Homo sapiens: one gene and its partners. The protein of the gene in region 3 purifies or fractionates together with the protein of the main gene of each other region. This does not show direct contact. Each region holds a gene or a part of one and is shown on either strand. Other genes may lie near its edges. The genes, in order: FREM2, LRP1B and TIMP3.

The links.
Region 1: the proteins of TIMP3 (region 3) and FREM2 purify together in Homo sapiens (affinity purification with mass spectrometry; one large-scale study listed by BioGRID and IntAct). This does not show direct contact.
Region 2: the proteins of TIMP3 (region 3) and LRP1B purify together in Homo sapiens (affinity purification with mass spectrometry; one large-scale study listed by BioGRID and IntAct). This does not show direct contact.

Annotation. Positions count from the first base shown.
Region 1 is NC_000013.11:38,685,454-38,689,208, reverse strand, and holds the start of FREM2 (FRAS1-related extracellular matrix protein 2 precursor), read right to left. Parts: upstream 2,133-3,755; 5' UTR 1,865-2,132; coding exon 1-1,864. UniProt on the Homo sapiens protein: Extracellular matrix protein required for maintenance of the integrity of the skin epithelium and for maintenance of renal epithelia. Required for epidermal adhesion. Involved in the development of eyelids and the anterior segment of the eyeballs.
Region 2 is NC_000002.12:140,349,923-140,353,577, reverse strand, and holds part of LRP1B (low-density lipoprotein receptor-related protein 1B precursor), read left to right. Parts: intron 1-505; coding exon 506-625; intron 626-2,539; coding exon 2,540-2,781; intron 2,782-3,655. UniProt on the Homo sapiens protein: Potential cell surface proteins that bind and internalize ligands in the process of receptor-mediated endocytosis.
Region 3 is NC_000022.11:32,804,705-32,808,359, reverse strand, and holds part of TIMP3 (metalloproteinase inhibitor 3 precursor), read right to left. Parts: intron 1-3,655.

The DNA of each region.
Region 1 (3,755 bases), on a different chromosome or scaffold from region 3:
GCTTCTCATGGGGAGGGTGAGTTTGGCGGAGAAGCAGATGCCCCGTAGTTAAGAAGGGTGACTCCAGCACAAAAAGCAGCAGAGAATCATCTGAATCCATGTCAGTTGCACTCAGGGAAAGGGGCAGGATGGGCACTGTTTCACCCTCTGCCAGTGTCAGCCCCGTGTTGGCATTGAGAACAGGTGGCTGGTCATCCACAGGCACTAAGGTGATGGGGAACAGAAACTGTACCTGGTGCCTGCCTCCTCCATCCACCATGCGAAGCACCAGGTTGTCGCTCAGCGAGCCGTCTCTGTCATCATGCTGGTAGACCACCTGGCCGGCTGCCAGCTCAGCCACTGTAAAGCTCTTGGGAGCAGAGCTGCCACTGGAAGCACCCAGAATGACAAGGTGACCATGCCGGAGCCCAGCCACCACCTCTAGCCGCACTGCTTCTAGGTCATCCTCATCGCTGATGACCAAGTTTTGCGGACCACTGCCTGCAGGGCCTGTGAGGGGCCGAGACTGACCCTCATAGAGAATAAGACCGGTATTCCGGGTGACCACCGGAGCCATTGTGTTCATGGGCTTCACCACTACCATGAAGGCAAAAGGGTCTGAAGCTGCTCCTTCTAGATCCACTACCTCCAATTCCAGTTCAAAGAGGCGCTCCTGGTCAGAGTCTTCAGAAGGGGGCTGGTAGGCAATCTTCAGGAGCCGCAGATCCCTCTGAGTGAAGGAGGAAAGGGGCAGGCTGCGATCATCGGTGCTCACCAAGTAGCCCTGGCCAGGCTGGAATGGAGAAGTAAGGTTGAAGATCAACAGGTCAGAGGGAGACTCAGCATCCTCGGCTGCCAGCATGTCTGGGGTCAGGGCCGTCAGTACAAACTGGTCCACCTCCATCATCATCATGGCCACGAAACTGGGCTTGGGTGCAGTGTTCTCGGCCCCTCCTCGGATCCTCACCAGAACCTGGAAGTGCTCGCGTTTCAAAGCAGGGCTGCCCACAGGAGCCCCTCGTGAACGCAGCTCCACCACCATGGGTATCCAGTCCCTGTTTGGTGAGCGACTGGCGGCTGTGTGGCGATAGCGCACGCCTAGTTCCTGGAAAGCTTTGCAGTCCATCAGGAGAGTCTCCGGGGCGCCTCCCTCTCTGGCTCCTCCAGGGACCTGCGGGTAGTGGAGGAGTTCTCCATAGCGAGGCAGCGCGCCCAAGCCGGACAGGATGCCCACGCGGCACTCCTCTGTCTCGGGCTGGAAGGCGAACTCCAGGCTCCGCGCGTCCAGGGCATTGCTGGTCCCCAGCAGCTCTTCCACGACCAGAGGCAAGTTCCGAGTCACAACCTCCAGCTGGGTGAAGACCACCTCCACCTCCAGTACCAGTGGTAGCACTACTGCCCCTCCGGGCGCGTCATAGCGCAGCTGCAGCCGGACGCGGTCCCGAGACGGGCTGCGCGCGCCCAGGTGAGAGTAGCGCACCTCGCCAGGGCCAAAGTCGCACGGGAAGCGCTTGGGACTCAGGCGGCCCGGTCGCTGGGCCAGTGCGTCGTTGTCTAGTACCGAAACCGCGCAGCGGTCCCCGGGCTGCACCTGCAACACCAGGTCATGCAGGGGATCCAGCCAGACTTCACGGCCGAAAGGCACCCGGAGTCCGCGGTTCGCCAGCACTATGGCCTCCTCAGCAGGGACCCCTGCAGCCCCCGCGAGACCAGGGGACAGCAACGCCCTGCCGAAGGCAGCGGGCTGTGCCGGGACGCGGCTTACCAGTGACAGGAGAAGCAGCAGCAGCAGCAGCAGCCGGGGCGGCGGTGGCGGTCCTGGTTGAAAGCTGGTGGAGTTGCCTGTCCGGCGCGAGGATAACCCGGGAGTCCCGGCTGAGTGCATGGTCCCGGTGTTCGGGCTTGGACAGGTCAGCCTGAGAGCATGCGAAGTCGGTCCCCGGGCAGACAACAAGAGACACCGCCGGGAAGTGCCAGGAACTCCGCGCGTTGCCCGCGGGGTCCTCCTGTAGCCGGGGCTGGGCCAGAAGGATGGCAAAGTTGCGCGGCGCCGTCCGGGCTGGAGCCGCAGCCGAGGAGCCGAAGCCTTCCCAGGCCGTCCAGCTCCGCCGCTAGCGCCTCAATCGCGCGGAGAATTGAATCCCTCCACTTCTACTTTCCAGGTCCCCGGACCCTGGGCTTTGAGGGAAATCCCTCCGCTCGCACCCCTTACTCCAGTCCTCCCAGGTGGCCAATCGTTGGTCGGGGGAGGAGGTGCGGAGCTGAGGGTTGGGTAGTAATTTCTGCCAATCAGCTCTTAGAGGCCAAGGCGGGGAAACTGCGGGGAGGGGAGGAGATAGAGGCGCAACAGGTTGTCCTGGAAGTGAGGGAAGAAGTGGCCAGGAGTTGCCCACCCCTGCTTGCGCTACTCTCTGGGCTGCTATTAATAGATCTGGTACTCCTGCAGAGGAGCCGGAACACACTGCTGTGCTGGGTTCACTTCATCTGCCGGCGACCGAGGGTTACCCATTTTAGCCACCCCCACCCCTCCGCCCTAGTCAATGAAATCCCGCGCAGGGCATGGCCATTTCCCAAGGAAACTTGCAAACCCAGGGGAAAGTTAGACGCAATGCTTTTTGAGTTTGAAGCGAAACCCAGAGCGTTTGAGAAGAAATTCTGGGGCATATTTGCAAAAGGACAGCTGGAATTAAAAGCCATAGCTAGAGCAGGTTGCACTCCAGCCCAGCCCCCTTCGGCGCGCCCAGACGCTGCCTTCTCCTCGTGAATTACAATGGGCACAGTCCTCCGATTGGTGAGTTTTTAACAAGCCCCTCCTTTGCAACCGAGGTTCACAGAGTAAAAGGGAAAAAGGGCATTTGGAATGCGTGAGAAATGCAGTCTGATCAGAATTGCTAGTCTTGCACCAAAGAATAAATTCTAGGGAATGTGGCCCCAGGCGCTCCCAAATCCGACTCTGTTAGGGTAGCTGTCATTAGAGACGTTCCTGTTCTCTTCGCAGTAATTAGACCAAGCACAAACTAAATCTACTTGTCAGCATCACATTTCTTTGCATGCCACGAAAATTGATAAATATCCGGAGGGCACACTAAAATAGTTTAGCTCTCATTTCAGCCAACAGGTTTTGAAGTCAGAGCTTGAGCTCTTCCTGCCCCCTTGTGTTTGTTTGGTTTTAGTAGTGTGTAGATTCCCTTTCTAAAAGGTTTTTTTATCAACTCTCCTCCCCCCCTCAAAAAAGATCCCTTGTAATTTAAACTTAATCATTTTCGGATTGGCTCCTAAGCAATCATAGTCAGAATGTTTTATTTAGGATAATATTTTTTTTCTCCAGTAATGCAAATCTGATTGCTAACAGGAGCATAGAATTGGAGTAATAGTCATAATTAGCCATAATTGCCCTTTTCCTGCTCCAAGGGATTTTGAATTTGGAAAAGAGGGAAATATAAGAAATTGTTAATGTCTTTTTACATTTCAGTCTAAATTGAAGCTAGAAGGTGCCTATGGGAGTAATTTCAGTAAGAAGTGCCTATCCTTTTAAGCCTTTGTGTTTTCAGCTTGAGCTCCTCCAGACCAGGATTTTGATCCTTGCTTGACACAGTTACAGCTATTTTCCAGGCTGCAGCACAAACTCTGTACATAAGTATGGCTGGGAGATGCCAGATTCCTTTCCATGAAACCTACTGAGTGGTGTCCGTTTCCAGGAATCATAGACAGGAAGTTCTAAAATCTTTCAAAAAGAAGCAAGAGATCAATTTAAAGGAGTCACTCATCCAAGCAAG
Region 2 (3,655 bases), on a different chromosome or scaffold from region 3:
GAAAAGTGGGCAAGGGCATTACGGGATGAAAGAATAGCCCATGATACCTTCGAAGGCATGGAGGTAGGTCATCAGAAACAGCTTAAAAGAAAACCTCAAGACAGGTCTATTTGCGTGAATGGAAATCTATACAACAAACCCCCATGGCACAAGTTTATCTAGGTAGCAAACCTGCACTTGTATCCATGAACTTAAAAGGTAAAAAAATAAATAAGTAAAAATTTTAAGAAAGAAAAAAGAAAGCCCCAGGGAAGTTTGAAATTGAAGCTTTAATATTTTAAGTGGATTAATAAAAGCAATGACAATTGATAAATCTTCTACTACAAATATTGTGAAAAATGATTATACCTTCAAAAATATGACACAGCAGGTCACAGATTAAAGATGTGAAAGGACAATAAAGCTAGTAATAAGTTAAAAATAATTTTGGCTTTTTTGAAACGTGGTAAGAATAGGAGTCTGAATTGAGGGTATGATGATGCTATTTTGAGCTCTTCTTTTCTAGACCTTAATGAATGTTTGGTGTTTGGCACATGTTCCCATCAATGTATAAATGTGGAAGGATCATATAAATGTGTGTGTGACCAGAATTTTCAAGAAAGAAATAACACCTGCATAGCAGAAGGTAAGATTATAACCACTATTGCAAATCCTATTACAATTTTGTTGTAAACATTTTATGGAGAAAAATGTTTTATATTTCATTCCAGCAACAGCTTCATTTCTGATAAAATACTTTTAATGATGATTAATTTGGCCAGTTGGTTAGTTAATATTAATGAATTTAATCTTAGATGGTTTATGGAAATGACTATGAAATATATGGTTACTGTTAAAATCACATTGTGTCATTGTGTTCAAAACAATTTTTCAAAAGGGGTAAAATTTTAAAAGCCAGTGTGATAGAATGTGAAGTATCTCTCTTGATGGTCTGCTCTAAGGGAATATGAGAAAAATTATACCCCAGGGATAAAAATAAACATTAGCATTATAAGGAGAAAGGAATTTTGAGTAAGGATTTTAAAGGTTTTAAAACAAGATCTTGCTTTCAAATTTAGAAGTCCTCCACTTACCAATATTATTTTTTAAAAAGATTAAATGATAGGCCTGGTGCAGTGGCTCATGCCTGTAATCCCAGCACCTTGGGAGGCCAAGGCGAGTGGATCACGAGATCAGGAGTTCAAGAACAACCTGACCAACATGGTGAAACCCCGTCTCTACTAAAACTACAAAAATTAGCCAGGCGTGGTGGTACACACCTGTAGTCCCAGCTACTTGGGAGGCTGATGCAGGAGAATCGCTTCAACCCAGGAGGCAGAGGTTGCAGTGAGCCAGGATTGCGCCACTGAACTCCAGCCTGGGTGACAGAGCAAGACTCCATCTCAAAAAAAGAAAAACAAACAAACAAAAAAAGATTAAATGATAAACTAGGGTTCTGGGCAATTGTAGGTATAGATTTTAATATTCATGTGTTTATGCTAAATAATACTGTAACTTCAATATTGTTGGCTACAAAGTATGATTGGACATTATTAAGATTGTTATTACAAGAAGAAAACAGGATGATGTAATGGATCAACTGTGGGCTATAGCATTTGATATGCTTGGATTTGAATCCCAGCACAGCACCTTTTAGACTGTGTGGCCTCAAGGAATTCACTAAAGTGTCAGAGCCTCAGTTCAGTTTCCATAGTTATAAGAAGTGGAGATAAACTGTGAAAGGCTTAACATAGCGTCTGACACATAATAAGCATTTGCTAAGTGACAGCTATTAACATTACAGAGCTGAAAGGCACCTCATGAGGTATTATTATTATTATTTATTTGCAGAAACTATGTATGCAATCGAACATCTCTTTAGGGCTTCGTTAATATTTTAATTGATAATTTTGGCATTTGCTTTAGGGTTTTACTTGTTAGTATGAAAATGACATTAGTACTCTATTGTAGGTGTCAAAACTTTAGAATAGAATGTTACACTTAGCAGGATTCTAGATAATTTAGAGATTATAGAACTTTAATGGAATAAATACTGATATCTTTTTATGTTAAAAGTTAGTAAGCATTTAAGATGTATAAATACAGTAAGAGGAAGATTCTTCATATTTTAATTTTTATTTCTTAGCCTAAAGTAATGATCACTCAGGTGCATAAATTAAGTAATCAGAAACTTTTGAAGCTTAATGAGTATACAACATAGTACTTGGATATTGACAATTGATGCATTATAACCTAGTGTATTGTGACTTATCAAATAATAATCTCTCTTCATAAAAGGACATTTATATGTACATAATTTCTAGCCATAAGGAAAGATTGGCAGTAGAAAAACCTCTATCAATAATTATTGTAAATGTTTAGATAAGTGAGTATCAGAAATAATAAGCCATAAAGACTAAAAGACAATATAAAACTGGTTGATTTTTGAGGAAAAACTGTATTAAGAATAATAATTCAAGATAATTTAAAAGTACAATTATTGCTTTTAACATTAGTTGAAATTTACTTTATTTTTGTATTTTATTATAATAATCTCCAGGCTCTGAAGATCAAGTTCTCTACATTGCTAATGACACTGATATCCTGGGTTTTATATATCCATTCAACTACAGTGGCGATCATCAACAAATTTCTCATATTGAACATAATTCAAGAATAACAGGGATGGATGTATATTATCAAAGAGATATGATTATTTGGAGTACTCAGTTTAATCCAGGCGGAATTTTCTACAAAAGGATCCATGGCAGAGAAAAAAGGCAAGCAAACAGTGGCTTGATTGTAAGTAAATACCATTGTATATTTGAAAGTCCATACCTTTTCCCCACCTGCTTTTTAAACAAAATTTATCTAATATAATATCTAATTATACTAAGTAATATATTCAATTATTCTCCCAATATTCTCCTTAAATAGAAATAATGCATTTCTCTACTCATTCTCATAGCTGTACATGATTTATTTTAGTTGCATGCTTTTATGTTTTTGCTTTAATGTATTTGACTATTATATAAGAATGCTAATGAATGACATATAACATCTCCAGAACATCTATTTCATAGTGCTTTACAATTATTATGAACATAAGCTTTTTTATCATGAGATGAGATTGGGAAACATCACTTTATTTTTACATTAGAAAGTAGCGTAATGCAGGGATAACTATTTCTCTTCTTACATTATCATAAATATACTTCTACTGTAGGGCAGGACATCAACTCAATAGTGTAACCATTTCTTCTGACTCCTGATAACTATATTTCAGGAAATATCCAAAACAGAAATATTGTGCACTTGTGTATGCTGGACATGTTGATTATCATGGTTATTGTTTTTGAGAAAAAATAAACTGGAACATGTTTCAATTTATGGTTGTAGATTAGATTATCCCTTTTTGTTTTAGGGCATGTCAAGTTATTGTGTGTTTTATATTTTTAAGTAACCTGGAAGGAAAATGACAGATAAATATGTGTTTTTATAGGGCCTGGCCCATTCCTGTACAACCAAAAAGTCAAGTGGTGTCCCAGCAGGATGTAATTGAAGCTTTGTGTTTAACAAAAATTAGAGGTTCCTATCTAGAAGTTCTCACTACTTTTTCTACTAGCATCTACCATAAACACTTGAACTACATAAATCCATTTGATGCAAATCTGGA
Region 3 (3,655 bases):
TGCCATCCATAGGCAACAAGAAGGGAGACAGATGAGTGAGTGCCCTTGCTGCCACCATGAGCCTGGCCAGCGGACAGCTTTGAGTCAGAAAGCAAAACCCTGTGTATGTGTGTTCAAAACACAGCCACATATACCTTTGAACCTGAGTCCATGTAAGTCCTCAAAGTCAAACAACTTGGTGTAATAAATGGTCCACTGCTTATTCTGAAAGCAAAATAAATACATAAAGCTATCTTCAACCGAATTACTCCAGCATGCAACAAGTCAAGGGTCACAGCTTTCCTGGCATTGCAGCCTTCCTCTCCCTATGAAAATACTCCCATTAACTTGATCTTCGTGGCCCTAATTTTGCTCCCTTTCAAAGAGACAAAAAGAAGGAAAAAAAACACTCAGTAAGTCAATAAAAATTATAAATTGTTTTTCTATTTGAGAGAAGCATGGGAGTCTCTTAAGCACAGGGCTCTAACATTCCTCCATCCCCTCATGTTGCATATATGAAAAGAACTGTGTTAACACAGCCACTGTGGAGGCCAAATTGGCAGGAACTATTAAAATTGAAAATGCATATTATATAATTATAATAATATAAGAGTATGTAGTAGTATATATAATATGATATGGTATAATGTGACCTATAGTATAGTTGTTAAATATATTTTAGAGCCAGGGTGAAGGGGCTTAAATACAGGCTGTATTCCTTGCTAGCAGTATAACCTTAAACGAGTTACCTCATTTTTCTAAGCCTCAGTTTCCTCAGCTGTAAAATGGAGATGACAATAGCACACCTCCCTCATAAAACTGAGAGAATTAAATGAGTTAATGTAAGTTAATGACTTAGAATAATGCCTGGCACATAGTAATCACTCTATACTTATTAGCTGTTTAAAATTATAACCTCATGAAATACATAAAAGAAATATATATATTATATATATAATATATATGTAAATATAATATATATATATTATATATAATATATATTATATATAATATATATTATATATTATATATTTATATATTATATATAAATTATATATTTATATATTATATATTTATATATATATATCCTCCAAACCATCAATCCACAGTAATAAAAGGACTTGGTTTGTCTCACTGTGGCCAGGGAGAAGTAAAGTTAATAGAGACAAGACATTTCAAGGTTCCAAGACTCTTCCCTTAAAGGTGGGGATGAGTTAGGGGTCCCCAGGGGGAGCTACCCAGTCTGCCAATGTGGTGGGAGGAAAGCCAGGGGGGCAGTCAGGAGACTGGGTCCCAGCTGGAGAAGGTGCTCCTCTGACAGTTTTATATATATATTAAGTAGAAAGATCTCTAGTACGCATTGTTGAATGGGAAACAAGCAGAATACTATATGTGGTATTATGTGGTATTCCATGATGTTTAATGTTCTACTATTCATGTTTCTAAGGGAAAAACTACTATAAATTTGCTATGGATACCTATGTATGTAAATGTATAGGAAGAAAAGGATTTGGAGAAGGGACTAGAGTTAGAAAAAGTAATCAGAAAGGATTTTACTCTTCTCCGATTTTAGATAGAGAGATAGATAGATAGATGATAAATGATAAATAGAAATGGATATATCATAGATATACAGAGAGATACATACATGGACATAGAATGTATTCATATACTTGTAGCTTTTAAAATATAGATAAAACAGGCCAAGATGGTACAAATTGTTATTCCCCTTGTATAAATAAGAAAACTAAAGCTCAAAGGTAGCCCATATGTGCCTAGGCACACACAGCCAACAAGCCCCAGAGGAAGGAGTGGAGCTCAGATCTGCCCTCCCCATTGCCTTTCCACCACTCCACCCTGCCTCTCAAGGCCACCCAGGAGTAGACTATGACAAAAGGTAGAAGAAGGGGCCTCCTTGTCCATACTGGCTGGAATGGTAAAAGCCAAGTGCGATGGAGAATCGTGTTGTTGTTTTTGTTTTTAATTAATGAACCTGTTGGAATGTGCCATTCAGCAGTGGAGCTGAATGGTTCCTGCTGTTCATGCAAAACAAACAAAAATCCCTCCACCCAAGCTACTTCTGTGGCCACTTTTCTAGCCTTATCTATCCAGGGACTGTGAAAGGGACACAGAACTGTCAGAGGGGCACCTTCTCCAGCTGGGACCCAGTCTCCTGACTCCCCCTGGCTTTCCTCCTACCACACTGGCAGACCGGGTACCTCCCACTGGGGAGCCCTAACTGATCCCACCTTTAAGGGAAGAGTCTTGAAGCCCTGAAATGTCTTGTCTCTATTAACCTTACTTCTCCTTGGGCCACAGTGAGACAAACCAAGTCCTTTTATTACTGTGGCTTGATGGTTTCAAGGGTCTTTTCCAGATCTAATAGCCAAAGAACATTAGAATTTTCCTCTATGATACACTAGAATAATAATAAGCTCTCCCTCCCTAAAGATGATGTTTAATTAAAACCTCTGGCCATTTTGGCTATCTTCATATTTTTAAAGAAAACCCAGATGTAGAAGAAAAGCATTCTTCAAATGTTAACCATCCATTCCATCTCCTGGTCACCTTAGAATGTCATGTGTCAATGAAAGTTGAAAGGTTTTTGAAGCATGGTATAACTGATAATACGTTTTAGCTTTATCATTTAGCAACTGGGTGGCCTTGGACAAGCACAGTCTCTTCAGCCTCAGTGTTTTCCATCTGAAAAATGGGTGCAATACCTACTCTTAAGGTTGCTGTGGGGGGTCGGGGGAGGGGGTGAAAGAGATGGCATTTGGGAAGTGCGTGCAACCAGGAGGGGCCTAAGACATGTCTCTTCCCTCCTCCAGCTGGATAGCAGCTCTCCTCCTTCCATGGTTCCAAGACATCCACAGCCTGGGTCCCCCAGACTTGCCCTACCAAGTGCTGGCGCCTCTCCAAAGTCTGATTCTTTCTATTTTCCTTAAGTTGCAAAGCCCAGTGTTGAGGTGTAATTGTGTGTAAGAGGGAGAGGGGATGGATCTGGTTTCTTTGAAAATGGCTTCTTTGCTAAAACGACAACCTCAGATCTGATACTGAAAGAATCTGCTGGCACTGGCCCCTGTCAGAACAATTTGGAGCTATCCAGGGGCCATCCTCTGGGGCTGGCAGCCGGCCCCCCAGCTGAGCCTCATGCTCAAATTCCCAACAGGCTCAGAGGCAGGCCCCGAACACACTTCATCCTACAGCCCCATTCCTCCCATGCAAAGGCGGCAAGAGAGAAGGAGAGAAGGGCTTGGCATTCTGAAGCAAAATTCTCTTTCTCTGCTGCAACCCCCCTCAGCCCTGCCAGCCACCTTTGCAGAAGCCACACACGCGCACACACACACACACGCACACACGCACATTTTCAGAAAGCCCTTGGCACAGCCCACCCCTTCCTGAGCTGGACAGAGCTGCCAGGGCAGATTTGCCCGGGCCGAGGCCGCCTTCTTCATCTCCAGCCCCCTCCCATTCCTCTTCTAGAGTCAAGGTTTTGTCAGGAGTTTCAGGGGCAATGACTGGCCAGGGAGGGGGACCACAGACATCCTGCCTGCTGCCAAGTCCCTTTCTTTCCCCCACAGTGTGTCTTATAAGCCGGCATGTAGTTTATTCTTCTCCTAAACACTTCCATAGGGTGCAGGGCCTGGAGTTGCCATAGAAACACCTTTTAACT